Homo sapiens: one gene and its partners. The protein of the gene in region 1 purifies or fractionates together with the protein of each later gene. This does not show direct contact. Each region holds a gene or a part of one and is shown in the gene's direction. Other genes may lie near its edges. The genes, in order: AHR, LDLRAP1 and SHTN1.

What was found.
Region 2: the proteins of AHR (region 1) and LDLRAP1 purify together in Homo sapiens (affinity purification with mass spectrometry; one large-scale study listed by BioGRID and IntAct). This does not show direct contact.
Region 3: the proteins of AHR (region 1) and SHTN1 purify together in Homo sapiens (affinity purification with mass spectrometry; one large-scale study listed by BioGRID and IntAct). This does not show direct contact.

What each region holds. Positions count from the first base shown.
Region 1 is NC_000007.14:17,340,055-17,343,707, forward strand, and holds part of AHR (aryl hydrocarbon receptor), read left to right. Parts: coding exon 1-174; intron 175-2,866; coding exon 2,867-3,010; 3' UTR 3,011-3,653. UniProt on the Homo sapiens protein: Ligand-activated transcription factor that enables cells to adapt to changing conditions by sensing compounds from the environment, diet, microbiome and cellular metabolism, and which plays important roles in development, immunity and cancer.
Region 2 is NC_000001.11:25,563,982-25,567,634, forward strand, and holds part of LDLRAP1 (low density lipoprotein receptor adapter protein 1), read left to right. Parts: intron 1-1,191; coding exon 1,192-1,226; intron 1,227-1,380; coding exon of another isoform or gene 1,381-1,435; exon of another isoform or gene 1,436-2,866; coding exon 2,867-3,011; 3' UTR 3,012-3,653. UniProt on the Homo sapiens protein: Adapter protein (clathrin-associated sorting protein (CLASP)) required for efficient endocytosis of the LDL receptor (LDLR) in polarized cells such as hepatocytes and lymphocytes, but not in non-polarized cells (fibroblasts).
Region 3 is NC_000010.11:116,942,644-116,946,296, reverse strand, and holds part of SHTN1 (shootin-1), read left to right. Parts: intron 1-1,278; coding exon 1,279-1,373; intron 1,374-3,653. UniProt on the Homo sapiens protein: Involved in the generation of internal asymmetric signals required for neuronal polarization and neurite outgrowth.

The sequences.
Region 1 (3,653 bases):
CTTCCTGAAAACCAAAAGCATGGATTAAATCCACAGTCAGCCATAATAACTCCTCAGACATGTTATGCTGGGGCCGTGTCGATGTATCAGTGCCAGCCAGAACCTCAGCACACCCACGTGGGTCAGATGCAGTACAATCCAGTACTGCCAGGCCAACAGGCATTTTTAAACAAGGTAAGGGTGTTATCAAACTGAATTAAATCTTTCAGTGATTCTTTTTACCTTATAGACATGTTACACATTTTTTATGTCAGCTGATTTTAATCGGTTATCTACAGCATTCATGGAGACAGCATTTTTTATTATATCTGTGACTACCTTTTTTTTTTTTACAAGCCTGTACTTTTTCCAGTATGTTACTAATATATCATTCACCTGATTCATGAGGGAGAAAGATATCAAGGAATGAAGCAACATGAATGTGTCCTTAATATAAGATGACCTAAATTACCAGGTGAAATTAGTTTTTAGAAGTATTTTGTTTAAAATAGATAATTTGGTTTATTCTTTCTGGATTCTTTAAAAATTATATGGCTATTTAAAAATTCAAGCTTTAAAAAACGTATTGCAATTTTTAAGAATAATTTCTTCAAAGCTCTATTTTTTTATATATGTTTGAAATTGAGTTAAACTCAAATTTAAGTGTGCTTTCTTACAATGCCTCTGAAACCCTAGATTAATTATATCCCTGGAATTCAGTCCTAGGCACCTCCATGTTCTCTAGCTATTCCTCCACATTACCTCCCCTATCCTCATCTCATCCTTTAAGGTAGAATGGCTTTCTTTTCTGGCTTTCTTAAAAGAGGTAACTCAGCTGGCTTTCTGTCATGGAAATCAAGCTTGATAGTGCATTTTTGTTGTTTAAATGTGTCATCAGAATCCGTCTGGCAGTGAGCACACTTTAAATCTAAAAATGATCACTTAAAAAAAAAAAGTTAACATAATGTCAGTAACTGCTGTCTCTGGCCACTCAGGAATACATCATGTTTGCATTTATGCTTTTTCCATTAGAAAATATTTAGTTCATTTTAAAGTATATTTAAGTTTAGTTTTAAAGAATATCTTGACTAAAATTAAGCTCCTTGACCCCTGTTTACTCTGTATTAGAGTATAATAATTAAAAGTATGACCTGAAGCTTTATCTTTAATTGTATTTTCTGGCTTTTTCATACATTTTGCTTGTCTAATCGTATATGAGCTTTTTAATAGAAAAGGACAGTGAAAATTTTTCTTATTCCTTACATCCTTCAATTATATTAAAATTGAATAATATTCAGTTATAGTCCGTCTCACAAAATTGCTATGAAAGTATATTTTACTCTTGAGTAAAGCAAATTGTACAGAAGTTAATTCTGTAAAATTACATTTTGAATAAGGAGTTGCATGAGTACCACATAAGTTCTTTGCAGTGTTTTCCCCTCACTACTTTTCACTGCTTCTTTGTAAATAACCAAATAATTCTATAGACCTACATATGTTCCAGAGTACATGTTATTGAGCTAAGACACTCAATATTGAGCCACTGAGTAGCTGTTCAGCACTTGAAATGTGGCTAGTCCAAATTGAGATGTGCTGTGTGAAGTACACATTGGATTTTTGGATTTTGAAGACTTGGCTTGAAAAAAGAATGTAAAATATCTCATCTTTTATTATTGATTTCATGTTGAAATGATTAGTTTTTTCAGTAGCCGCATTACAAAAGTAAAAAGAAACAGGTAAAATTAACTTTAGAAATGTATTTTATTTAATCTACTGTAGCCAAAAATTTAAGTTCTGTATGTGGCTCACATTATATTTCTATTGGATTACACTGCTGTGTACAGTATGTTTAAAGAGAATGGTGACATGAATTGTGTTATGAGTAATGAGAAAAAATCATTTTAAACTCACCATTATCTGGCCAGGTAATACTAACTTTTTATTTAAAGAATTTACAGTGTTGCCATTCATTGAAGATACAGGTTATATGATTTTTACTATAGATTTTATATATGTTTTGGAGGATCTGTGAAGTAATTAACATTTTGATTACTGAAGCCAGTTATGTAGGCTTTACAAAGGTAGATTTTATTTGAAGCAATTAAGGATATGATTTTAATCTGTTTTAAAGTTTCCAGAACGTCCACTAACTAAAATATAAAGGCTCTGTAATCTATAAAACTCTACAGAGCTATACATCTTCATGTCCTTCCTTTTTATTTTTCTTTTTTCTACTAGCAGTTATAGAAACCAGATTCATTGCAGTGTAAGAAAACAAGACAGAGCATTTTCTTTTGGTAACTTGATTCTGTAATTAGAACTATGCTTTCAGTAGTATTCATTAATTAAAAGTATATTATGAATAAGAAATCGGTTAAGAAAATCATACCTGTGGTGTAATATTTTAGGAATATTTAGAAACATTTAGAAAATCAGAAGCTGCCTTTTTTGGAAAAGTTTTGCATTCCAGTGTAAGATTCCTGAATATAATCAATTCATTGATACCTATAACTTCAAACCTGGTCAAAGCAAACCTACTTATGATAGAGAATATTTAACTGTAATTTGTGACTTGTGCTGTTTGACCCATCAATTCCTACCTGACCCAAAGGCAATCTGAAATGAGACAGCTGCATCACTCATCTGTACCATGTTCAAAATTTCCTGTCAAATTAATGGAAAAACAGGTTATAAATGCAACTAATACATAATATGTCCTCAGTATGTCTTCACTGTGTGAAAGATTTAAAATTTAGCAACAGTAAAGGAACTTGAAGTTTACAACTCTCAGGGGTAAGATTTTAAAAATACATGTTAATGTTATTTACTGGCTTAAGATACTTGGAAGATCTATTCCAATAAGTTGCATCACCATTTTTGTTTTCAGTTTCAGAATGGAGTTTTAAATGAAACATATCCAGCTGAATTAAATAACATAAATAACACTCAGACTACCACACATCTTCAGCCACTTCATCATCCGTCAGAAGCCAGACCTTTTCCTGATTTGACATCCAGTGGATTCCTGTAATTCCAAGCCCAATTTTGACCCTGGTTTTTGGATTAAATTAGTTTGTGAAGGATTATGGAAAAATAAAACTGTCACTGTTGGACGTCAGCAAGTTCACATGGAGGCATTGATGCATGCTATTCACAATTATTCCAAACCAAATTTTAATTTTTGCTTTTAGAAAAGGGAGTTTAAAAATGGTATCAAAATTACATATACTACAGTCAAGATAGAAAGGGTGCTGCCACGGAGTGGTGAGGTACCGTCTACATTTCACATTATTCTGGGCACCACAAAATATACAAAACTTTATCAGGGAAACTAAGATTCTTTTAAATTAGAAAATATTCTCTATTTGAATTATTTCTGTCACAGTAAAAATAAAATACTTTGAGTTTTGAGCTACTGGATTCTTATTAGTTCCCCAAATACAAAGTTAGAGAACTAAACTAGTTTTTCCTATCATGTTAACCTCTGCTTTTATCTCAGATGTTAAAATAAATGGTTTGGTGCTTTTTATAAAAAGATAATCTCAGTGCTTTCCTCCTTCACTGTTTCATCTAAGTGCCTCACATTTTTTTCTACCTATAACACTCTAGGATGTATATTTTATATAAAGTATTCTTTTTCTTTTTTAAATTAATATCTTTCTGCACACAAATAT
Region 2 (3,653 bases), on another chromosome or scaffold:
CAACAGGCTTGGCTCCCAGCACAGCTGTCTCCTCACAATGCTTGGCCTCTTGGCCTGAGCGTCCACGGCTCTGCCCACCACAAGACCAGCCAAAGGCGCCCTTGTTCTTGGTGTGGCAGAGCTCGCTCCTACCACCCCTCCCCCTCAGCCGCCTGAATGAGGACCCAGAGACTTGGGCAGTCACCAGCTTGGTCCCTGACTCCCTCAGGGACTCAGGGCAAGCCCCCTGACCTCTCTGTCTCAGCTTTTTCATCTCAGTAAGGGTGATGACCTCTGCCAACGGAATCTCCCCGAGGAACCTGAAATTTAATTTTAATTTTTCATTTGGAAATAATTTCAGACTGTGTTACAAAATTAGTACAGAGAATTCCTGTTCACCCGTCATCCAGATTCCCCAATTGTTAACATCTTGCATGACCACATTACACTGGTCAGAATCAGGAAACAAACACGATACTGTGCTGTTATATAATCTATAGAACTTACACATTTCTCCAGGTGCCCCTTCAGTGTCCTGTTTCTGGCCCAGGATCCATTGCAGAATCACATGTTAACTTGTCGTCTCTTTAATTTTTAAAAATCTGGGTACTGGGGGCTCCCCTGGTGTCCCTCGAGCCTGTTCTCTGCTGTTTGGGAACCACCCTTGCCACTTGCCCATCCTCACCAGAAGGCCATGGAGGGACCTCACCTGTCGCTTTTCTGCTGAGGCTGTGGGACTCCTGGCATCAGTTATCCCTCATGAACTTGGAATTTTGGCTTGGCTTTTGGAAGTAAATGAAGGCAAGAAAACTCCCTTCCCCACCCTCTTCCTTTTGGAATTTGAAAGCCATAGAAGTCATCAGGTCCAATGCCCTCCTCTTATTGAAGGAAAAGCTGAGTTTCAACGTGGAGCAGTGACTTGCCCAAGGTCTCACGGGCAGGTAGCATGGACCAGGGCACTGAACCCACCTGGGTCTCCAGACACCCTGGGACATGGCCTTTCTCCTCTCCCACGTCTCCAGCTTTGGGTCCTTGGGCTGAGATGCTGGCGATGCACCCAGGCAGGAGGCCTGCCTGAGGCCGTGCCTCCAGGCGCCCACCCTGAGCTTGTGTCCTGAGTCCCTGTAGCTTACCCAGGGCTGGGACAAGCCCCAGCTGTGAGCATGGGCTCCCCCAAACATAGTTCTTATCTCCTGCTTTGTTTTCCCCAAGGAGCTGGATGATGGCCTGGATGAAGCGTTTTCGAGGTAATGCTAGCTTCCTGTGCTGGGTAGGGGGCCTGGTGTGCGTGGGCTGGCCCTGCTGCCCTTTCTCCTGGGGACCTTTCCCCTGATTAAGAACACAAGCCACTCAGACCCCCTCCAGAGCAACAGTCCCATCCCTCCACTCAAATGCTTCCAGGGGCAGGGAGCTCACTGGGGAGGAAACCCCTTCCAGCGTTGTCCAGAGCTGTTAGAAAGTTCTTACTGTTGAGTCAAAAACTATTCCTGGTGGCTGCTCTGCCGCAGTCTGAGGTGAGCGAAACACACTGCAGCTCAAGTTGATTTCCTCCGACTTGAGGAGGCGTGGCCTTCAAAAATGGGCTTTTTTTTTTTTTTACAGGCTTTGCTCCCTCCACAGGTCTGTGTTTATGAACAGGGGAAGGGAGAAAGTGTTTAATGAAGCTCGTGAAGCGTTCCATAGCAGGGAAGGTCAGGCACAGTGAGGAGGTGTTTTGGTATAGCCTTTGGTGGCATTTCCCCGTTTTCCCAGGGGCCATCCTTGTGGCCCCCTGCAGCTTGGGGACATGCCACTGAGAAGGCTGTGGCTGAGGAGAGGCCTGGGCAGGTCAGGGTTCCGAGCCCTGGGTCCCCGTCTGTCAGGCCTCCCTTTCTCACTTGAGACCCTCAGCAGCCTCCTACAGCCCTCCCACATCAGGGGCTTTGTTTGGGGTTGGAGTCAGCGATTTTTGGTCCAGCGGGTGGGGACAGAGTCAGGGTCTTTGCCCTCCTGCCTCCTCCTTCCTCTTCCTTGCCTCCTTCTTGCCAGGGACTAGTGGAAACCCCTTGGTCCAGCCTGGGGCGAGGGCGACAGTGACACCTTCCCTGCCTCACTGGCTGACGACACCTGCCCTCTGAAGAAAATCTTTTGTTTGCTTTCTCCACATTATTTTGAGCATCATGTGCCCTTTATTAACAATTTTGAAAATCAGCAAAGCATTAAACAGAAAGTAACACCATCCTGTAATCCCACAGCCCAGAGTTTTGGGCTTAATTCATGCTAATCCTATACATATACATTATTTTGCATTGATCAGCTCATCGTATTTGCATTTTGGGATCCTGATTTTTCACTTAACAGCGATGTGTCAGAAGCATTGCTCCAGGCTGTTAAAAGCTCCTCGTAAACACCTCTTCCATTGACTGCCTAACATTCTCTTAAGGGAAGCTGCTATAATTTACTTGACTCTCCCCTATTCTTTTGGACATGTAGGTTGTCTCCCTTTGTAAATTTATTTTTCGAACAGCACGGTGTTGACACAGTTATAGCCAAAGAATCTTCCGTGTTCCCTCCCACAGCTTGTTCCCCACCCCACCCCCACCCCCGCTGCTCCCTTTACCAGCCCCTTCTCCTCTTTCCTGGGCATGTCCTGACTGAGCTGGGGCACAGAGTGGGTGCTCTGGCCTCTCCCGGGGGTGGGTGCACCGCTGGCTGCCCCTGACTTTTCTGAGCTGTTTGACTCTCAAGGGGAGGTGCTTTGATCTGAGGTTACTCCACCTCCCCTGCACCGGGGGCTTCCTTCTTGGGCCATGTGCCCTGCTGTTCCCCACTGGTGCCCCCTCGCGTCTGACCCTGGGGCGCGCCAGCCCTCACCCAGGCTCTCGGCTCACACAGCTCTGCCTTCCAGGCTTGCCCAGTCTCGGACAAACCCTCAGGTCCTGGACACTGGCCTGACAGCCCAGGACATGCATTACGCCCAGTGCCTCTCGCCTGTCGACTGGGACAAGCCTGACAGCAGCGGCACAGAGCAGGATGACCTCTTCAGCTTCTGAGGGCCCGGGGCCAGCCGGACACAAGCGGCCCTGACACGTGATGGACCAAAGCCACCTGCTGCGGGGGAGCCAGTTCTGGGGCCCGCCTGCCACCTCTCCCAGCCCTCAGCATTGTCAGCCTGAAGATCAGAGCTGCAGCCAGTCAGGCAGGGGAGAGATTTTTCTTTTAAGCCCTGCTCTTTCTCTGAGAACCAAAAGATGCCTTGAATATTTATTCAGTGACTTCTGGCTTATGCTCAGAAGCCAGTCTGCGTCAGGCACGTCTCCTGCTGCGTGACATGTGCAGTGCTGTAATCGGCTCCCGCTTGCTCTCCTGGAGCAAGCTCTGCCCTGGCTGTGGGTATCAGGACTGTGACCAAAGCATTTCTAGTCCCTTCTCTCTTTCTAAGGACCCAAATTTCCCTGGGGGCATCCTGCTTCCTGAAAGCTGTTGGATTTCAGTGATTTTTCCCCCCACCCCCCAGCACAGGAGAGCACCCACAGCCGCAGAAGGGGAATGTGTCCTCCTGCTCTGCTTCCTCAGGGCCCAGCAGGCGGGGGTTTGAGCCCTGGACCCCAGGCTCTTAGAGACTAAGGGGCAGCTCCTGACCAAAGACGATACAGCTTGGCACTTTAAAGCATTAACAGCAGGTGTGACCCTGA
Region 3 (3,653 bases), on another chromosome or scaffold:
AGCACTAGTACCATTTTAGTGTATATTCTTCCAATCTTAAAAAAAACTCTCTCTACATATATACATATTAAATGTTTTGTTAAATATGTTTATATATATATTTATATATATATGGAAGACAGAGGAAATACCAGTAAAAGGAATCTCTTTATACTTGCTGGTACCTTACAAACCCATGAACATCCCTCTCTACTCTTACCCCTCCCTTGAATTTTTATTATTTCCTTTCTTTTATTTGTAGTTTTGCCAAATATGTCTATATCTCTAAACAGCATTGTTTAATTTTGCATATTTTTGAACTCTATGTAAATGGAATCATTTTTCCTGTAACCTTCTGCAACTTTTTGTGTTTGTGAGATTCATGCATGTGGACAGGCATAGCTGTGGTATGTTTGTTTTCACTGCTATATACTATTCCATTAGATGACTACACTAAAATTATTTTAAGTAGTATCCTATTGGTAGACTTTGGGCTGTTTCCATATTTCTGCTATTCTGAGTCATGCTGTTATAAAAAATGTTAGACATGTCATCTGGTGCACATGTCCAAGAGTTGCTTTAAGACACATGCCAAATGTCAAATTTTATCTTCAGTTTTTTTTCACTGCATACCAAATTTAATAAAACCATGCTTTAAAATTTTTACCAGTTGCCTCTTGGATGGGTGTAAGAAGTGTTTTTACTCTGCATTTCCTTGATTCCTAATGAAGATGAGCATCTTTCCACATGTTTATTGGCCTTTTGTATATTTTCTATTCTGTGAAATGGCTGTTGATGTGCTTTATCTGTGGCTTTTAAAGAACAAAAATGAATTCACTTTGCACTAATTTTTGCAATCTATTTTTAAAAATACATCACAGATGTCTTTCCATTTACTAAGTATGCTTCTACAATATAATTTTGATGGCAGAATAATATTTCTTGTACTACAATTTACTCATTCTTCTGTGTTAGAGTATTATGTCATTTCACTTTTATCAGCAATGAGGTAGAGAGCATCCTTGCAACCAAATGTCTGTATATGCTCATGTGTTACAATCTTAGCATATGCATTCCTGGAAGTGGGATTATTCAAAGTGTATGAATAGTTTTAGATTTTTGATTCACGTTGCCAAGTTGCTCTCCAAAAAGGTTTTATCAGTTTGTATGCCAACCAGGAATGCATGAGGGTACCTGTATGCTGGTATGAAAAATCTTTTCAACACTGTTTTTCATCCATATTCCTGATTATTTGTGTGACTTATTGTCTGGGTTTTTTTTTTCCTTTATCTTCTTAAGTGTCCATGTTAGCTGTAGAAGAGTATGAGGAGATGCAAGTAAACCTGGAGCTGGAGAAGGACCTTCGAAAGAAAGCAGAGTCATTTGCACAAGAGGTGGGTATCTTGTAAAAATCTTATTTTTTTTCTTGAGACAGAGTCTCGCTCTGTCACCAGGCTGGAGTGCAGTGGCGCAATCTCGGCTCACTGCAACCTCCGACTCCCTGATTCAAGCGATTCTCATGCCTCAGCCCCCCGAGTAGCTGGGATTACAGGCACACGCCACCGTGCCCAGCTAATTTTTGTATTTTTATTAGAGATGGGGTTTCACCATGTTGACCAGGATGGTCTTGATCTCCTTATCTCGTGATCTGCTCGCCTTGGCCTCCCAAAGTGCTCCCAAAGTGAGCCACCGTGCCCAGCCGTAAAAACCTTTTGAATTTTTGTTTTGTAAGGGACCTTGCAGACGACATATCAGACAAATTCTTGAGGTTGAATAAGAACTTACCAGTTTGAATTAAGGATCTGCTGGTTTAGGGAGGCAGATATAGAATAGTATCAAGTTCATTGTCAAAAGATCTGGGCTCAAATTTTGGCCATGTCAGTTACTAGTTGTAGTAGTGTATGACCTCTGAGCAATTCTTCAGCCTCTCAGGGCTTCACTTTTACCATCTGTAAAATGGACAATAATACAGACCTGACCAAGTGGATTTTAATGGCAAAATTTAAAAAAAGTGTTGTATAAACTATAAAATGCTATGTAAGGGAAAGGAATTGCATTTGGAGACAACCCATGACTTGTGATGGAAAGTCCAACTTGGGTACAAGATGCCTGTACATTTCAAATAGGCTTAAAATCTGGGATGTATCTCCATATACCATCTCAGATAACAGTATTATGGTATCAGTATTTCTCTTCAGCCATTGTGCAGTGCTGTCATTATGCCAGGAAGTTCTTCCACTGGCTGTGGAACACTGCCATGTAGTACATTCATTATCTCAGCGTTTCACCAGCCTACTGATCTTCCTCTTATGTTAGAGATCAGCTTTGAATCTCTTGTTCCGGCTTACCTGTTGACATGCAGTCGTTGGGTCTTCCATGGCCCTGGGGCTCATCCAGGGGGATGAGGAGTTCACCAATGGGCTAAACTCAAAAGCTGGTCTGCAATGAGATCTCCATCCTGTGGGTGTAGTTTGAATTTGTGTGCATACTGTAGGTTGAAGGAAGATAGCTCAGGAAATGTAAAACAGTCCTAGGTAGAGGTATCCAAGGCATAGAAGGAAGACAAAGCATGGCATTAGGGGAATGACATTTGAAAATCCAATGATGGTTTTGTGGGGGTCTTTCTGTGCTTGAGCATAGCTGTGCTAGCAGTGAACTCTACCGAAGGTTTAGGCCAAGTAGATCTGATTTGAAATATTATGATTCGTTTTATTTAGAGAGTTTAATGAAAGGTGAGTAAATATTTTTCTCTTATTACTTGGAAGAAAGAAAAAAGAATTGAAGTGTGTCAGAGCTCTCTGGAAAACGTTGGAGCAATATAAATAATGCAGTGAAATAAACAGTGGAGGGGGAGGGGAAGCAGGGATAATGTGAAGATGCCTTTATTGCAAAACTGGAAAGGTCGGCTGATTTTGACCTGAATAGCAGGTCTCATTTCAAGACATGTTCAGTTTTCCATCTGTTGTTTGCACAATGATGTTAGAATACAAAGCAGCTCAAAGAAAAACTTGAAGGCCATGTGGTAGCAGAGAAGACAGATGGAAGAAGCAAGGTTGCAGTAAGAAGACAAAAATGAATGATTGACTCTGCTGTTCACCTGGTCTTCAGTCTTAGTGGTTGGTGGAAACAATAATGCTGACATGTTAACCCAGAATGAGAAGGTAGAAGTTTGAGGAGAGAAAGAAAGCAAGAGCAATGGTACTTACGTTATTGGCAGCATAAATATTTGCAGTGGCACTCAACAATTTTACAATATCTAGATTCAATCTACACAATAGTGAGAAGAAAACTTTTTTTTAAAAAATAGCACCACGTTGGAACTAGTATATTTTCCTTTTTACAAAGTTTATGCATTCTCAGGTTTTCAACAGGTAAGTACTGCACAAAGACACATAACTTAGTTTAACAACAGAGTCCCATTCTTTTGCATTTTACTTACCACTTAGGGCATGCAGCAAACATCTTACTGTGCCAGACACTGTGCTGACATTGGGAATCCAGTGGTGAAGAAAGCAAATGTGAGCCCTACCCTCTTGGAGCTTATAGTCTAGAGCCTTAGAAATCAATTTTTAAGGTTAATTTACTTTATATTTTTAATTAAAAAGGAGTATGTGTGCCTTGCACAAAGATACAAATATTTTCTAAATGTATAAAATAAAAATTGAAAGTTACCC